2 separate regions of the Homo sapiens genome follow, and region 2 is linked to region 1. Evidence: fine-mapped expression QTL. Tissue or cell type: monocytes after triphosphate RNA. Region 1 holds a variant in brackets; the other region holds the start of a gene. All regions are shown on one strand. Distances are between the middles of the regions.

Evidence for each region. PIP is the estimated chance that this variant, and not a neighbour inherited with it, causes the effect.
Region 2: JUP starts here. The variant in region 1 is fine-mapped to the expression of JUP in monocytes after triphosphate RNA (Kim-Hellmuth 2017, PIP 0.95).

The regions. Positions count from the first base shown.
Region 1 is chr17:40,826,201-40,834,304 of GRCh38, forward strand. KRT10-AS1 (KRT10 antisense RNA 1) reads left to right here. Exons shown (of 3, transcript NR_160888.1): 2 at 6,915-6,999. Among named protein-coding and RNA genes, the nearest start is that of KRT10, 7.6 kb to the left of the region's middle. RefSeq lists an enhancer at 966-2,165 and a silencer at 1,909-2,138. The variant A/G (reference allele first, on the strand shown) is at 3,173.
Region 2 is chr17:41,781,731-41,789,834 of GRCh38, forward strand. It overlaps JUP (junction plakoglobin), which reads right to left and starts at 4,981. Exons shown (of 14, transcript NM_002230.4): 1 at 4,858-4,981. RefSeq lists silencers at 4,273-4,485, 4,650-4,949.

The DNA.
Region 1 (8,104 bases):
AGAGGTTGTCTAACAGTCTAGTGAATGTGTGTGTGTGTGTGTGTGTGTGTGTGTGGTGTGAGTGCACAATGAAAGAATATTGAAGTAAAGTTCGGGATTGAGGATGAGTTTTGGTTTAAGACGTGAATTTGAGGTAATACCAGGATATTCATGTAAACATGTCTTTAAGCAATTATGGGACTGCTGTTAAGGAGAGAGATTCAGAATAGCAGATTTTGGGGGTAGTTAGGATCCCTAAGGGAAGGAATTTAGAGAGAAATGTACAGAAGGTCTAATTCTGAACTTTTGGAGTCACTTTAGGGGCTGGGAAGAAGAAGTAGAGCTAGAGAATAATCCTGAAAAGAAGGACATCTAGGACCAGGGAAAGGGGGAAAGAGGATCAGTGAAGCCAAGGGAGAAGAGAACGTGGGTGAGGTGATCATCCGAGAGGTCAATGAAAAGATGGATTGAGGAAAGTAATTTGGAACCATTGGCATCCTTCCAGAGGACAATTTTAATTGAGTAGTGGTGGGGCAATTCATGATGCATACCCAATATTGGAATTGATGACTTTGCTTATGGTATTTTATTTTCATGTTGTCCAGTTTATCAATTTCTTCTTTAATTGCTTCTGAACTTTGAGTCGTGGTTAAGACGGATATAGTTGCTATTCGCATGGGGTTAATTTGGCCGGAGCTCTAGAAGCATGTTGTGGATTCAAGTTTGTTATCAGTTTGACTTGTCTCACTGTTGGGATTTGGATCCTTTTTATTTCTTCCTTATTTTGCTTCAAGTAAAATCCGCTTTTGAAGTTTCTAGCTGAAAATTCTATTTGCAAGTTTCTTTTTCTGATTGAGATATAATACATATAATTGAGATATAATGCATAGTTTAGGTAGTTGCAGAAGGACAAATCTGGTAATGCAGGTTATATCTCAAGATGGCAAGGTTGATCTAAATATTTAGAATTTTCTGTTGTTTATCACAAAGTTTAAGAGTCAGGCATTTTCTTTTTACTGTTCTGTGACTGTGCAAATTGCTTAATATACTTTTGTGATTACTACCCACAGAGTCAAAACAAAGTGGAAAATTGTATCATTATTTGATAGATTTGGTACCCTCTTCTCAGATAGCTAATTGTTGGACAACTAAGATATCAATTGATAAAGTTCATGTCTTGTCATTGGTAAACTTCTAAAATTCAGGGATTTAAAATCTACAAACACTCCTATATCAATTTTTCTGAAACTTCTGGGACTGTACTGTGATGGAAGCCACAAAAATATGGAAACTGCTTGAAGGCTTTTGAGTTTTGAGGGTAGTGTAGCAGGGTAAGTGGGTGGGCTCTGGGGTCAGACTGCCGGGGTTACAATCCAGGCTCCCCCATTTACTGTGAGGTTTCATCTCAATGTCCTCCTCTCTAAAGTAGGGATTATAATTTTTCATACTCTGTGGAGTTGTAGCAGGAGTCAAATGAGTTAATAAATATAAAGCGTTTAGAACAATGATTTGCATGCATAGAATAAGCACTTAATGAATATATTTTTGTTGCTATTACTGTTTTGTGATCTCTGTTTCTCATAGGTTAACCCACTGTCCAACCCACAGGATGCCTTCAAAATAGGAATGAATGAAAGGATAGGGTGAGAAGTTAGAAAATGGCTTGTGAGGGAGGAGAAAATGGCTGGAGAGGAAAGTAGGGTGGGGAAAAGGTGTTCAGCTTGATAACTTTTGTGATAAACCATGCCATCTGTTTTTCTTTGAGTGACACTTCCTTTCACTTTAAACTTCATTTCTTTATCTCCTACATCCACCAAGGCACTAATTTTGTCACCTTCTCTTTGTCATAGCTAATGTATTCGTTTCTTTCTGTGTAGCCCCACTGTAACTGCCCTAATCTGAGCTTTCACCACTTTTCTCGAAGATTACTTCACCAGCTTCTGAAGTGGTTTTCTTGACTCAGCACTGTCAATTAAGATCTGTTCACTGCGGCAGGGTTGATGTTCTTGAAACAGTACTGTCATCACTTCATCAACATACTCGGACCTCTTGTGGATGGATTAAGTCTTCTCCATAACCTTGCCCGACTCTGTCTGTCCAACCTCATGCTCCCTGCGGTGAGTCAGGGTGGGGAGTGGAAGGAGTGCTACATTCTCTTCATAAAGTAATTATGTGGCCCTGGGCAAGATACTCAGCTTTCCGTGTCTCAGTTTACTACCCTATAAAATATGGATAGTAATGTTAAATATTAAAATATGGATAATAATCCATGATTCAGTGAAAAAATGTGTGTTAGCATCTCCTTTAAGAATCCTTTAATTACTTAATCCTTTAAGCAGGCCTTTCTACTCTTGGCTAAGATACTATGCTTTGTTCCATTTTAAGGCTTGTGTTTGTTGCTCTTGGCTTAGAATGCCCATCTTCTACTTTGCTGTTTATTCAAGTTATTCTACCTCAACTCCAGACTCTGACTTAAATGCCATCTCCTTCATGAGACTTCCCACCGTTAGTCTGTAGTTCACGGCTGTCTCTTTCTTCTCATTTCCTATGTTGAACAACTTGGTGTTTTATAATTTGTTATAATATTCTGGCCTCTTTATTAGTGTTTCCAATGCAATACGACATTTAAGTTCCTTTAGAGAAGGGAGGGTGCCTCTGTTCTTGCTGCACCCAGTACTCATTGTTCTCTGAATGTTTTCGTATTGCCTCAGTGCCTTTCCCCACTTTCTTTGCCTTTATTTTTTTCTCCAAACTCTTGGCCTGTATGTTTTGGCAATAGTGCAAGTTAAAAATTTAAATGAAGGCTGGTTGAAGACAACTAATTTAATTTTGCTTTAAAGGAAATTATGATACTTTTTGATGTAAGAATATGTAAGAATGATAAGAAAACCAAGATTCTGCATAGGAATTTTAAAATACCTTAAAGTATATAAAGATATATTCCTTAGAATGGAAATACACTATATATATTAAGAAAACATTTTGGCCCTCACTTTTTCCTCTTCATTAAAGGTCACTTTTTTTTTGTCTTGGATCTGTTGAGATTATCTTGATACTAGTAACCTGCTAAAATATATCTGTAGTTTTATTCTAAAATTTGAATTTTTTTCATACATCACATCAAATTAAAAAGCTTCTGCACAGCAAAGGAAACAATCAACAAAGTAAAGAGACAGCCCACGGAATGAGAGAA[A/G]ATATTTGCAAACTATCCATCTGACAGAGGGTTAATAACCAGAATATATAAGGAGCTCAAACAACTCAATAGGAAAGAAAATCTAATAATCTGATAAAAAAAATGGGCAAAAGATCTGAATAGACATACAAATCTCAAAAGACATACAGGCTAGGCATGGTGGCTCACACCTCTAATCCCAGCACTTAGGGAGACTGGGATGGGAGGACTACTTGAGCCTAGGAATTCAAGACCAGCCTGGGTAACGTAGGGAGACCCCATCTCTACAAAAAATAAAAATAAATTAGCTGGGTGTGATGGCATGTGTCTGTAGTCCCAGCTACTTGGGAGGCTGAGGTGAGCCATGTTCCTGCCACTGCACTCCAGCCTGGGCAACAGAGTGACCTCAAAAAAAAAAAATAAGAAAACATATAATGGCAAACAGGTATGTAAAAAGGGGCTCAACATCATTGATCATCAGAGAAATGACTCAAAACTGTGCAATGAGAATGTGATTCTCACTGCAGTTGAATGAATAATGTAAATTATTACAGTCACAGTAATTTGTTGTACAACTCACCCCGCTTAAAATGGCTTTTATCCAAAAGAGAGGCAATAATGAATGCTAGTGAGGATGTGGAGAAAAGGGAACCCCCTCGTTCACTGTCCTTGGGAATGTAAATTAGTACAGCCACTATGGAGAACAGTATGGAGGTTCCTCAAAAAGCTAATAATAGAACTACTGTATGATCCAGCAGTCCCACTGCTAGATATATACCCAAAATCATGGAAATCAGTATATCAGTGAGATATCTGCACCCTCATTTTTTTTTTGCAATTGTGTTCACAATAGCCAAGATGTGGAAACAACCTAAGTGTACATCAACAGACAGGTTGATAAAGAAAACGTGGTACATATGCTCAATGGAGTACTATTCAGCCATAAAAAAGAATGAGATCCTGTTATTGCAACAACTTGACTGGACCTGGAGGACATTATGTTAAGTGAGATAAACCAGGCATAGAAAGATAAACTTCTCATGTTCTCATTTGTGGGAGCTAAAAATGAGAACAATTGAACTCATAGAGATAGAGAGTAGAAAAATGGTTACCAGAGGCTGGGAAGGGTAGTGTGGGGTGAGGGGGCTGGGAAGTGGGGATGGTTAATGGGTACAAAAATATAATTAGATAGAACAAATATAATCTAGTATTTGATAGCACAACAGGGTGATTATAGTCACAATAATTTATTGTACATTTTAAATTAAAAAAATATTATTGGAATATTTGTAACACAAAGAAATGATAAATGCTTGAGGTAATGGGTACCACGTTTACCTGGGTGTGATTATTATGCATTGTTGCCTGTATTGAAATATCTCTTGTTCCTTCTGAATAATACAGTTACCATGGACCCATAAAAAGTTAAAAATTTTGAATGTTTTTTATATTAGGAGAATTGACAATTCTAGTTGGGTTTCTGGCTAGGTAGCCTATGAGTATGTTGTAATTTAAGGATTAAATATAATATAACTTAGCTTTTAAATTTCATTAGTATGTCATGGGATTTCTTTTCAGGTAAATTAATTTCATTTTGTAAAAGACAATTGCTCACTATGAGTTAGCGCATTAGTAGGATAATTAATTAACATATAACATAAAATAGAAATGTAATATCCCTTTTAGTTTTCATAAAAAATAGTGAAGCCGAAAGTACCAAACAATTCTCTACAGACCCATTTTAAAATATTGAAACTGAACATTGTCCAAAATTCAGTGGCTGTTTTCTCCCCCTCATAAATCTAAGAAAATTCCTTTAGGTCCAGCTGTGGTTGCTTGTCCAATTGGTCATTTCAAGGATGGCTGGATATGAGAGAAAATAACATTATAATTGGGTATAACTTCATAATTTTTACTTAGAGAGTCTGGACAGATCTAAATAGAGTAGAGAAAGTTTTGGATTAGAAATGATACATACAGAGGTTAAGGTTTACAGTGAAAGCATTTAATCCCCCACTCTAGTGATTTTAAGTCAGTATATGTAACATGCTTAAATTTAAAGGAAAAAGTCTTAAGGAATCAAATTAATTTCCTAATTTTAAAGGTTTTTAAAAAATACTTGACCTTATGGACTCAGACAACTAGTCAATTTCATAATAAATGGACCCTCTGTCTTTGAATCACTTTTTTTTTTTGGTAAGGGGGTTGTAAGAATGGTAGAGGAATAGATTTAAATAATTATTTAAATGTAACACACAATAGTAGCAGAGAAAATAATTATTTAAATGTAACACACAATAGTAACAGAGAAAATGTACCACAACCATTCTGTGGCTTCTTTCACAAGGCTGACGACTGATAATCTCCAAAGAACTTTTGATTTCTTGTATTAAACCCATTAAACAAATATGCAAATAACATTTGCAAAGTCAGTCCTAAGATAGAGTTTATAGAGCTTGATGAGACTTTTTTATGTTCCAAGACCTGTTCTAAATTTTACTTGCATTTTTGTCTCATCAAATCCTGTTGGCAACTTTATGAGGGAAATTTTATTTTATTTTATTTATTTTGAGATGGAGTTTTGTTCTTGTTGCCCAGGCTGGAGTGCAGAGATGCAATCTTGGCTCACCACAACCTCAGCCTCCCAGGTTCAAGCGATTCTTCTGCCTCAGCCTCCCGAGTAGCTGGGATCACAGGCATGTGCCACCATGCCTAATAATTTTGTATTTTTAGTAGAGACGAGGTTTCTTCATGTTGGTCAGGCTGGTCTCGAACTCCTGACCTGAGGTGATCCACCTGCCTCAGCCTTCCAAAGTGCTGGGATTACAGACGTGAGCCACCACCCTTGGCCAGAAATTTTATTTTAACTAAAATTAGTTGGCCAGGCGCAGTGGCTCACGCCTGTAGTTCCATCACTTTGGGAGGCCAAGGCAGGAGGATCGCATGAGCCTAGGAGTTTGAGACCAGCCTGGGCAACATGGCAAAACCCCGTCTCTACAAAACACATGCACGCACACACACACACACACACACACACACACACACACACACACACACAGAGCCTGGTGTGATGGCACATGCCTGTGGGCCCAGCTACTCAAGAGGGTGAGGTGAGAGGATCACCTGAGCCCAAAAGGTCAAGGCTGCAGTGAGCTGTGATTGCACCACTGCACTCCAGCCTGGGTGACAGAGTGAGACCCTGTTTCCCACAAACCCCTCAAAAAAGAAAAGAAATTAGTTAAAATTTAGCATGCCCAAAACGATTCAATAAAGGGACTTTGGTGGGATTTGAACACAGACCTATCTTCAGAGCTTTTTAAAAACACAATGATTAACTTTTTTCTTTTTTTAAACACACTGTTGCTGGCTTAAACTGAGTAACTCCTAAAACTCTTTTGAAATGAGCTAAAATTGTATTTTTCAGTTATGTGACTTGGAAAATTAACAAGAACATAAGGGATTTTAGTTTCTTTTTCAGACTAGACAAGCCTTCCTTATCATACTTCTGTGATGAAAAAAATAGACTAATTTGAAAAGAAAAAGAACTAATGAGGCAAGATATCCTGCCCTGGAAGAGATCAGACTTGTAGGCCTTGTCTGTTCCCAGGAGAGACTCTGCACTAACTTCCTGAGGGTCCGTCTGGCATGGGTTAATGAAGGTTCCTAACTCTTTGGCAGACCAGTCATTAAAATAACAAATCACAGCAATTAGCCACCATGCATAATTGAAGCATTAATCCTTTTATAATGCTGGCTTTTTCAGATGGAGCTAACACCCATTATGGAGATTAACCACTTTTCATCAGGTTTTTAACTTAAGTCGTGAGGAATACAACGGTGAACACAAGGTGTGTATGTGAATTAATTTAGTAGTAAACTATGACATGGAGGGGTTCTGTTGCTTTGAAAGTTTCCAACTTATATACATTCAAAAGCTATTAAACTTTTTGGTGTCTCTCCAAATATTTTCCATATTGATAATTTTGGTTGAAATGTAGAGCTAGTTAGAATTTTCTAGTCTAATGCTTAGATATAAATGAGTGCATATTTGCAGAGCTATAAGATGTTGCATTATTTTTTTTTCTTGGCATCTGGAATATAAATGCTAAATTTGGTCTAGTTAGAATTTCCTGCTTCCCTCCCTCCCCTGCTTCCTTCCTTCCATCTCAAAACTCTCCAAGGATGAAGACCCCACAAGCTATATTGGGGTAACATATTGTAACAGTAGTTACTTTCAGTTTCTGTCAAACTAGATTAAAAAGAAGACAAGTATTACATGTTCTCACTCATATGTGGGAGCTAAAAAAATTGATCTCATCGAGATAAAGAGGAGTATAATGGTTACCAGAGAGGCTAGGAGGATAGTAGGGAGGTGAGGGAGAGAAAGTAGGGGATAAAGAGGGTTGGTTGATGGGTACAAACTTACAATTAGAAGGAATAAGATCTAGTGTTCAGTAGCACAATAGAGTGACTATAGTTGACAGAAATTCACTATATATTTTAAATAACTAGAGTGAAATTAGAATGTTCCCAACACAAAGAAATAAGTGTTTGAGATGATGAATATCCCCATTATCCTGATTTGATCATTACACATTGTATGCTTGTATCAAAATATCACATGTACCCCATATATATGTATAACTACTGTGTATCCATAAAATTTTTAAAAAATTTAAAAGAGGAAAGGAATGGAAAATAAAAGTAAAAAGATGATTCATCAAAAATTACATTGTAGAAGAAGAGTGCAGAATGGCATAAACTAGTACCACATAGAACTTAATTTGTAATTGTGAAGAAACCATGTAAGTATATTTACTCCTGGTATTGTGTCTTTCTCTCTTATCCTAATTTACTGTTCCTCTATAGTTTAAAATTAAAGAATTGCCTTTAAATTTTACAGGGCAAACTAATTATACTGTGGAGACACAAAATGTTTTGAGACATCTGTGA
Region 2 (8,104 bases), 960 kb after region 1:
GCCTCCCTGCCGCACAGGATGGCCCTCATCAGAGAAGAGTCAATGCTGAGTCTCCACCTCTCCCTCTTATTTCTCAACTCAAGATTTCATCTTTAGCAGGCAGAAAGCCCCTCCTCCTGTCTAGACTGCGTCCCTTCAGTAAGTGCATCGGGCCTGCAGCTCTCAAGTCCTCGGGGGAGATGGAAAAACTGCAACCTCATGCCCTCTTTGTAGTAGTCAGTGGGATGGGGTTCATTCTGTTTTCTTCTCTGTCTCAAGTCCCATTAGCCTTCTCCACGATCAATAATCCCGTTGCCTGGGGTCCCCGCCTGCCCTCAGGGAATCCAGAAGCGCGGTAGTGACAGGTTCAGTACTCCGGCTGCACCATCACATAAAGAGAACCCATTTCCCAGACCCCAAATCCAGGCCCATTCTGGTGTCAGATGTCCAGTTGGCAGAGACACCAGAACCAGGCAGGTCTGGAGAACAATCTGACACCAGCTCCTCCCTAGAGGGCCAAGGCTCTGGCTGACAGGCAGCACACATGACCCCCACCTCCATCACCAGAAAAGCCCTCCCAGCAGCTGCCTATCTCAGGTCTCTTGGGCTTCAGAGCAGAGGACAGCCAGTTCCCCATCAAGAGCAGCCTGGCAGCACTGCCTCGTCAACTCCAGCAGGACATTAGCCCAGGCCTAAATCGGACTCTCGTTTCTCGCCAATCCCCACAGGGCAGCACCCCTTTATCTTGGCATAGCCCCAGCCCCCAGCAAAGCAGGCAACTCCCACTTCCTACACATGAACAAGCCCAGAACAGCCATGGTTCTACCTAACCCAAGCTAGGAGGCAGCACAGCTTTGACCCCTGCCTCCTCTTTCCCTCTCAACCTCCCCCCAACACTCACCACAGCCCTGGCCTTGGGGAGAAGCCGCTTCCACCGGAAACTAAAAATCAAGCCACTGGGGAGATTTAAGTGGGCTGGTGGCCAGGACAGGTATCACCCCCACCTACAAAACCTGCCCTACATTCACCACTCACACATGCCTTCATGGGCCCTTCTGAATTCTCTTCTCCCCAGTCAGGCAGAGGCTCTCAAAAGGGGGTGCAGAAAAATCCTTTCCGCTCACACCTGTAATCCCAGCACTTTGGGAGGCTGAGGCGGGCGGATCTCCTGAAGGTCAGGAGTTCGAGACCATCCTGACCAACATGGTGAAACCCCATCTCTACTAAAAATACAAAAATTAGCCTAGTGTGGTGGTGCATGCCTGTAATCCCAGCTACTCGGGAGGCTGAGACAGGAGAATCGCTTGAACCCAGGAGGTAGACGTTACAGTGAGCCGAGATCGCGCCACTGCACTCCAGCCTGGGTGGCAGAGCGTGACTCCATCTCAAAAAAAAAAAAAAAATCCTTTCCAGAGCTGCATGGGGCAATACAGCAGGATGGGTTCTGGGCTTGGAATCAGAGGACCCAAACGTCAGTCTTGGTGCTGCTTGGGTCTCGCTGTACAACATTGGGGAAATTACTTAAGTTCCTTGAGTTTCAATTTCCTCCTCTGTAGAATGCGAATAATGATACGCGTTTTTTTTGTTTTTTTTTTTTTTTTGAGTCAGGGACTCACTCTGTTGCCCAGGCTGGAATACAGTGACACAGCTCACTGCAGCCTTGACTTCCCTGGGCTCAGGTAATCCTCCCACCTCAACATTCCCAGTAGCTGGGACCACAGGCATGCACCACCACGCCCGGCTAATTTTTCTATTTTTTTGTAGAGACAGGGTTTCTCCATGTTGCCCAGGCTGGTCTGGAACTCCTGGGCTCAATCAAGCAGTCCACCCTTCTGGGCCTCCTAACGTGCTGGGATTGCAGGTCTGAGCCATCCAGCCTGGCCAGCCATAAGGATTAAGTAAAAATAGTTAATGAAAGTGCTTGGTTTGGGCCAGGTGAGGTGGCTCACGCCTGTAATCCCAGCACTTTGGGAGGCCGGGGCGGGCGAATCACGAGGTCAGGAGATCAAGACCAGCCTGCGCAACATGGTGAAACCCTGTCTCTACTAAAAATACAAAAATCAGCCGGGGGTGGTGGCACACGCCTGTAATCCTGGCTACTCAGGAGGCTGAGGCAGGAGAATCACTTGAACCCAGGAGGCGGAGGTTGCAGTGAGCCTGGGTGACAGAGCGAGACTCCATCTCAAAAAAAAAAAAAAAAAAAAAAAAGAAAGTGCTTGGTTTCTGTAAAGTCTTACCTTGATCTTGAGTTACCGTTTGTCAAGTACTTACTGGGTAGATAGGTATTAGTATTCCCATTTTGCCAAAGAGGTCACTGAGGCTCAGGTAATGAGAGACAGAGCTGGGTCTCAAACCCAGCTCAGTTCAAGCCCAAAGCCCTGTGCTCAGAACTGCCCCACTGTCCCATCTCTCCAAATAAACAGTCCTTCTGTAGACTAGTCAATTGACCCATCTCACTCTAAGGTGGCTCCAGGATGGGAAAAAGGTTGGCAGCCCTAGCCCGACCTTTTTCGTTCCTATGCACTGCATTCTCAAAGCCTCGGCCCTGGCAGCCCAAACAGAGGCTCCAGAGGGAATGGGGTGGAGCCAGGGTGCAAGGGAGGGGTGGAGTGGGGGTGGGAGGGCTCAAGTCACCCAAGCTGGGGCTTGATCTAGCAAGAAATGACTAACTGGGTCCTACCTTCTCCTCCTCCCCCGCATCCCCCAGTCCAGTCAGTGGCCAGTTTTCACCAAGCACCTCCTAGCAGTACTTCCTCAGTATTATCTTTTCATCACAGCCACAAACCAGATTAGCTAAACTAATCATGTAGCCAACATAATTACAATGCCCTCCCCTCCTCCACCTTGGCACAGAGAAGAGGGAAAGCAGGTTATTTTTGCCCAAACTCCCTGCTCCTGTTGCTCCCCAGAGGTGCAGAATCCCATCCCCCGGCAGAAAAGGATCTGAGTTCCCACACTGACTTCCCCCTAGCACAGGGCTGAGCGTGATCCCCACCCAGGATAAAGGGGCTGAGTCTGGGCCCCCAGCCTCACTCCCCCATCTACAACAAAGAAAGAGGTGGTAGACTCTTCCCCTCCAAGCACTCTCGATCCCCGCCCCCCACAATCTTTCTCCCACCCCCAGGACTGAGAGAGAACCCAACTGTTGTATTCTCTCTCTGTTCCCCAACGAGGCTGGGCTCCAAATCCTGCAAAAAGACCACATTTCAGATTTTTTTTTTAAACCGGGGTACAAACCCTGATCAAGATCCCCAATTCTGGGTGGGGGGGGGCGGTCTCAGGAAATTGGGAGCAGGGAAGGCAGGGGGCCCGATGCAGCTCTGCCTGAGAGAGTCTAGCATTGAAGAAACCTTCCCCCAAAAAGCCTTCCTGCGGTCTCACTTTCCCTGTCAAATTCTTTCAGGAAAGCGGGTGGGAAAGGTCTGTGCAGGCCTCCAGAAAGCATGCACCTTCACAATTCAGAAATCAAATGGAAGGCAAGTCCCACAGCCTCATGCGCTTCTGCCTCAATAACCAGCCAGCTAAGTAATGTGGGGGATGGGGTAGAGGCAAAAAAAAAAAGACAAGAACAACCACTCCCCCCACCTTCCTCAGTTTGGCCCAGCCCTGCCCCACCCCCATTCCTGGGGAGGGGGCAGAGCTTGAGAGACAACCACTTACGCAGGCCTTGTCTGAGGGGGTGTGGTGGTCCCAGGAGGCAGGAAGAGAAGGAAGAAGCTGCTTCCCCTCTCAGCACTTTCCACCCCCCACCCCGGCCCCTACCTCAGGCCCCTGGGGCCCAGCGAACAGGATGAATGTGGGGGCAGGGAAGACAGGGTCGGAGCCCAGGCACCGGCCCAGGTTCAGCCAGGGGCCGGCTGGGGGAAGGGGTTTTGCACCAGGAAGGACCCCCTAAGCCTAAAGGAAGTTTTGGGCAAGGAGACGGGAAAACCCCCAGATAAAGCTGCTGTGAATACTTCCTCCTGCAAAGTTTGTTTTGGGTGATTTTTTCCAACAATAAGAGGTTAGAGAAGACGGGTCCTGTTCCCCTACCAACACTCTGGCAGCCACAGCTACTGGAAACTGGGCCAGGTGACCCTGAATTCTTCATCCGTGCACAGACCCCACCCCCCAGACCCCAGGGCGAGCCACGGGTGCCAGACACCAGCTGGACACTGAGCCGAGCCCTGCACCCCCCAGTCACTCCATCCCACCTCCGCTGAAGAAGCCAGAGCCGGGCTCCCACCGGCGTGGAGGGAGGCGCCGCAGGTAGTATCGACGAGGCTCTGGGAGCTGGAGGGCAGGGCCTCTGGACTCCGTGCGCTCACCTGCTCGGCAGGTGGGGCCAGAGTCGCTGGGAAAATGTGCGCTCGGCCCCCACAGTTGGGCAAGCTGGGCGCAAACAATAGGGCCCCACCCAGGCCTGGGGGAGTAGGGAGGGAGGGAAAGCGAGGATGACGCGTGGGGTGGGGTGAGGGTGGCCCCAAAGAGACCAGCGGCAGCAAGTTCCCCAAACGGTAAATTCCTGACTGCAGCGTGAGCCCTGGGACGCAGTCGAAGCAGAGCAAAGTCTCCCCCGCCAGCCCAGGGCGAGAGTCAGGGACGCGGCGTCGGGCGAGCTGCGCGGGCCCCGGGGGAGGCGCGACCCCGGAGGCACCTGTCCGGATCCCTCCCCGCCTTGCTCAGATCTCTGGTTCGCGGAGCTCCGAGGCGCGCTCGGCCCGAACCGCGCGACCCCCAAGTCGCCGCGCCCAGGACCCCAGCGCGCCCCCTGCCGCCGGTGCAGGGTGGCGCTCGATGGCACCGGCCCTCACCTGCCCAGGGACGGCTGGGACCGGCCCCGCGGCCGCTCGCCACCCCTCTGTCCCCAACGATACCTGCGCCCCCGATAGCCCGCACCTGAGTATGGGGCCTGACCGGGCCGGGTCGGGGTCGGGCCGGGGTGGGAGCCGGCGCGGACAGCGAACTGAGCTCGGCGTGGTCGGGCGGCGGCTGCTCCGGACTCTGGCCAAGGCAGCAACTCAGTAACCGAACAAAAGGCGAAGAGACCTGACAGCCAAGCCACGCCCCTCGCCACCTCGAAGCTCCGCCCCTGGGGGAGACGCCCACCCTCTGGTGCGAGCTCACTGGCTATCTCGCCTGACTGTCCCGTGGAGGGGCGGAGCCTCGCCTCCAGTCCTCTTCCACGGCCGCCTCTGTTTATCCGCTTGCCATTGGCCCCGGGGACTGCCAGTCGGCTCTAGGGATGGACTCTAACTTGAGGTCTCATCCTAACATTGCATCTATTGGCAGATAGAAAGTTACTTCCTCCTGATTGGACAAGGCTCTGTCAGTAAGACTAAGGAAAAAACCAATGGAAGGGATGGGGTGTGTCTTGCCCCACCCTTGCTCTGAGCAGGTGAGACTCATTACTCTCCCCTTCCCCCTACCTGTCCAACAGGTAAGTCATAGGGATACCAAGGGAAGGGACAGACGCCTTCACCGGCCAGCCAACTCAGCGTCAGGCATGATGCTTCTTTGGGCTTATTCATCCTTGCCCCAAAGTAGTAATCACATATTTGTATAGCATTTCATAGGCTTTGTGCTGGGGTGGGATTTTTTTCCCGAAAGATGGAGTACTCCTGGGATTTAGAATTAGAAGGCCAGGTTTGGTCTTCTCCCACTTGGTATGATTTTAGGCAAGTTACTTCACCCTGTTTCTCCTCTTCTGTAAACTGGATACATTAGCCATATCTACCTCACTGGAGTATGTGGGGATTAAATGAGGTCAGGTTTGTGAAAGCACTCAGAAACTGCTAAAGGTTAGAAATTTAAATTAACGGTATGTTTTTTTTTAATTATTGTGACAGCTCTGAAAAATAGTTAGGATGAGAAAACGACCCTCATTGTAAAGATGAAGAAACCGAAGTTCAGAGAAGTCACAAAACTACAAAGTGGCACACCCCAAGCTAGAACCTCCTTCCTCTCATTTGAAGGACCATCAAACCAGCTGTTCCCCTCATGGAAGAGGAGCATAGACATAAAATGTCAAGGCAATGGGGAAGGGGCAGAGAAAAGGCACAAACACTTGGAGGAGAGACAGAACAATTAATTGGCACAAAAATACAGTATTGGTGTCAGGAGGCTTTGGTGGGCTTGGAAACATCAAGCAGCAGATCTGAAGGAAATCCAGCCCTGGCATGAAAGAAACGGGGCAGGCCAGGCGCAGTGGCTCACTCCTGTAATCTCAGCATTTTGGGAGGCAAAGGCGGGTGGATCACCTGAGGTCGGGAGTTCAACACCAGCCTGGCCAATATGGTGAAGCCCCATCTCTACAAAAAATACAAAAAGTTAGCCGAGCGTGGTGGCGGGCAACTATAATCCCAGCTGCCTGGGAGACTGAGGCAGGAGAATTGCTTGAACCTGGGAGGCGGAGGTTGCAGTGAGCCGAGACCATGTCACTGCACTCCAGCCTGGGCATGACAGAGCGAGACTCCATCTCAAACAAAAAAAAAAAAAAGAAAAGAAAAAAATAAACCGGGCAGCACACCCCTCTGCGATAGGAGAGCCTGGGGTAGAGATCAGAGAGAACTTCTCGGCCAGGCGTGGTGGCTCATGCCTGTAATCCCAGCAATTTGGGAGGCCAAGGTGGGCAGATCACTTGAGGTCAGGAGTTCGAGACCAGCCTGGCCGACATGGTGAAACCCCATCTCTACTGAAAATACAGAAATTAGCCAGGCATGGCAGCGGGCACCTGTAATGCCAGCTACTCGGGAGGCTGAGGCAGGAGAATGGCGTGAACCCGGGAGGCAGAGGTTGCAGTGAGCTGAGATCATGCCATTGCACTCCAGCCTGGGTGACAGAGTGAGACTCTGTCTCAAAAAAATAAAAAGGACTTCTCACAGGCAGCTTAAGAAGACAAGGGCACTTCCTTTCTGTGGTTGATGACATGAATGCTGCTCGTGGCTGTATGGTGTGCCAAGGGCCCTACAAACATTCCTTCATTCAACACTTGAGTATTCATTGTCAACTGTATGTTAGGCACTGGTGAACACAGAAAATAAAACCTGGTGACACAGGAAATAAAAATGATCCCAACCTTCAAAGAGCTCATAGAAGGATAAGCAGAAGCAGCGTGTGTGGGTGGGTTTTGGAGGAGTGGTGGTTTAGAAAAGGGTCCCCCATCAACAAAGCTCTACAGCCCCAAAGCTAGCACACAGGATGGGCTGGATGAAGGTACCTTAGCAGCAACCTTGACCACTTTCCCCACCAGAGAAAAGAATGGTAGCTGAACATTCTCCCTTCTGAAGTTGCGCCATCCAAAAGCAGGGCCAGGGAGATACGGACATCCCTGAACTAGTGGCCATCCCATAACCAGGGCCACCGCCCTTTGCCTGTTTCCTCAACTCTCCATCCTCCAGCTTACCTCCCTATCTTTATCCCTGCCTTACCCCTGCCCCATCCACCTGCTTGTCACCCTGTCACATAGAGCTGTAGCCAGGCCACAGCTGGGGAAGGAATGGGCTCACAATCCTGGACTGCTGCAGCTGCCAGGGTTTCATTTCTTCCCCCTTCTGCCCACCTCCCACCTCCACACATGCACACACACATACGTCCCAGCTCCAAGCCTGGCCTGACTCCTTCCTATTTCTCCTGACCTCAGCAAAGAGGCAGGGTAGGGCTGGTTGACTGCAGAGAGGGGTGGAGGAGCCCATGTGGGTGGAGGAGCAGAAATAAGGTTTCAGAATAAACCGTGTGTGTGTGTGTGTGTGTGTGTGTGTGTGTGTGTCTCCCCAGAATGCCCCCTGCGTGTCTTAGCATGGAACATGTTGCATAACACCAGCCCCAGAGCTAAACACACAGGCTGGGACTGGTGGAAGCACCACCACAGCAGCGGCAAAGACTGGGATTAGAGCTGAGTCTCTCCTCCCAGATCAAGGGATTCTCTTTAAGCACCTACTATGTGCCTGGCAGGCACTGAGATTCATCTGTATCTGAGAATACAGAATAGAATCAGAAATGATGTTTCCTAGACTCAGCTGTCTGCACAGGCAATTTGGTCTCTTGTGAAAGGAGGTATGTAGGGATAGGATGGGGGTTTCTGTGACCACAGTCTCCCCTGTAGCTTGAACTTGAAGAAAAGGCCGCAAGGTCATCTTATCCAGTC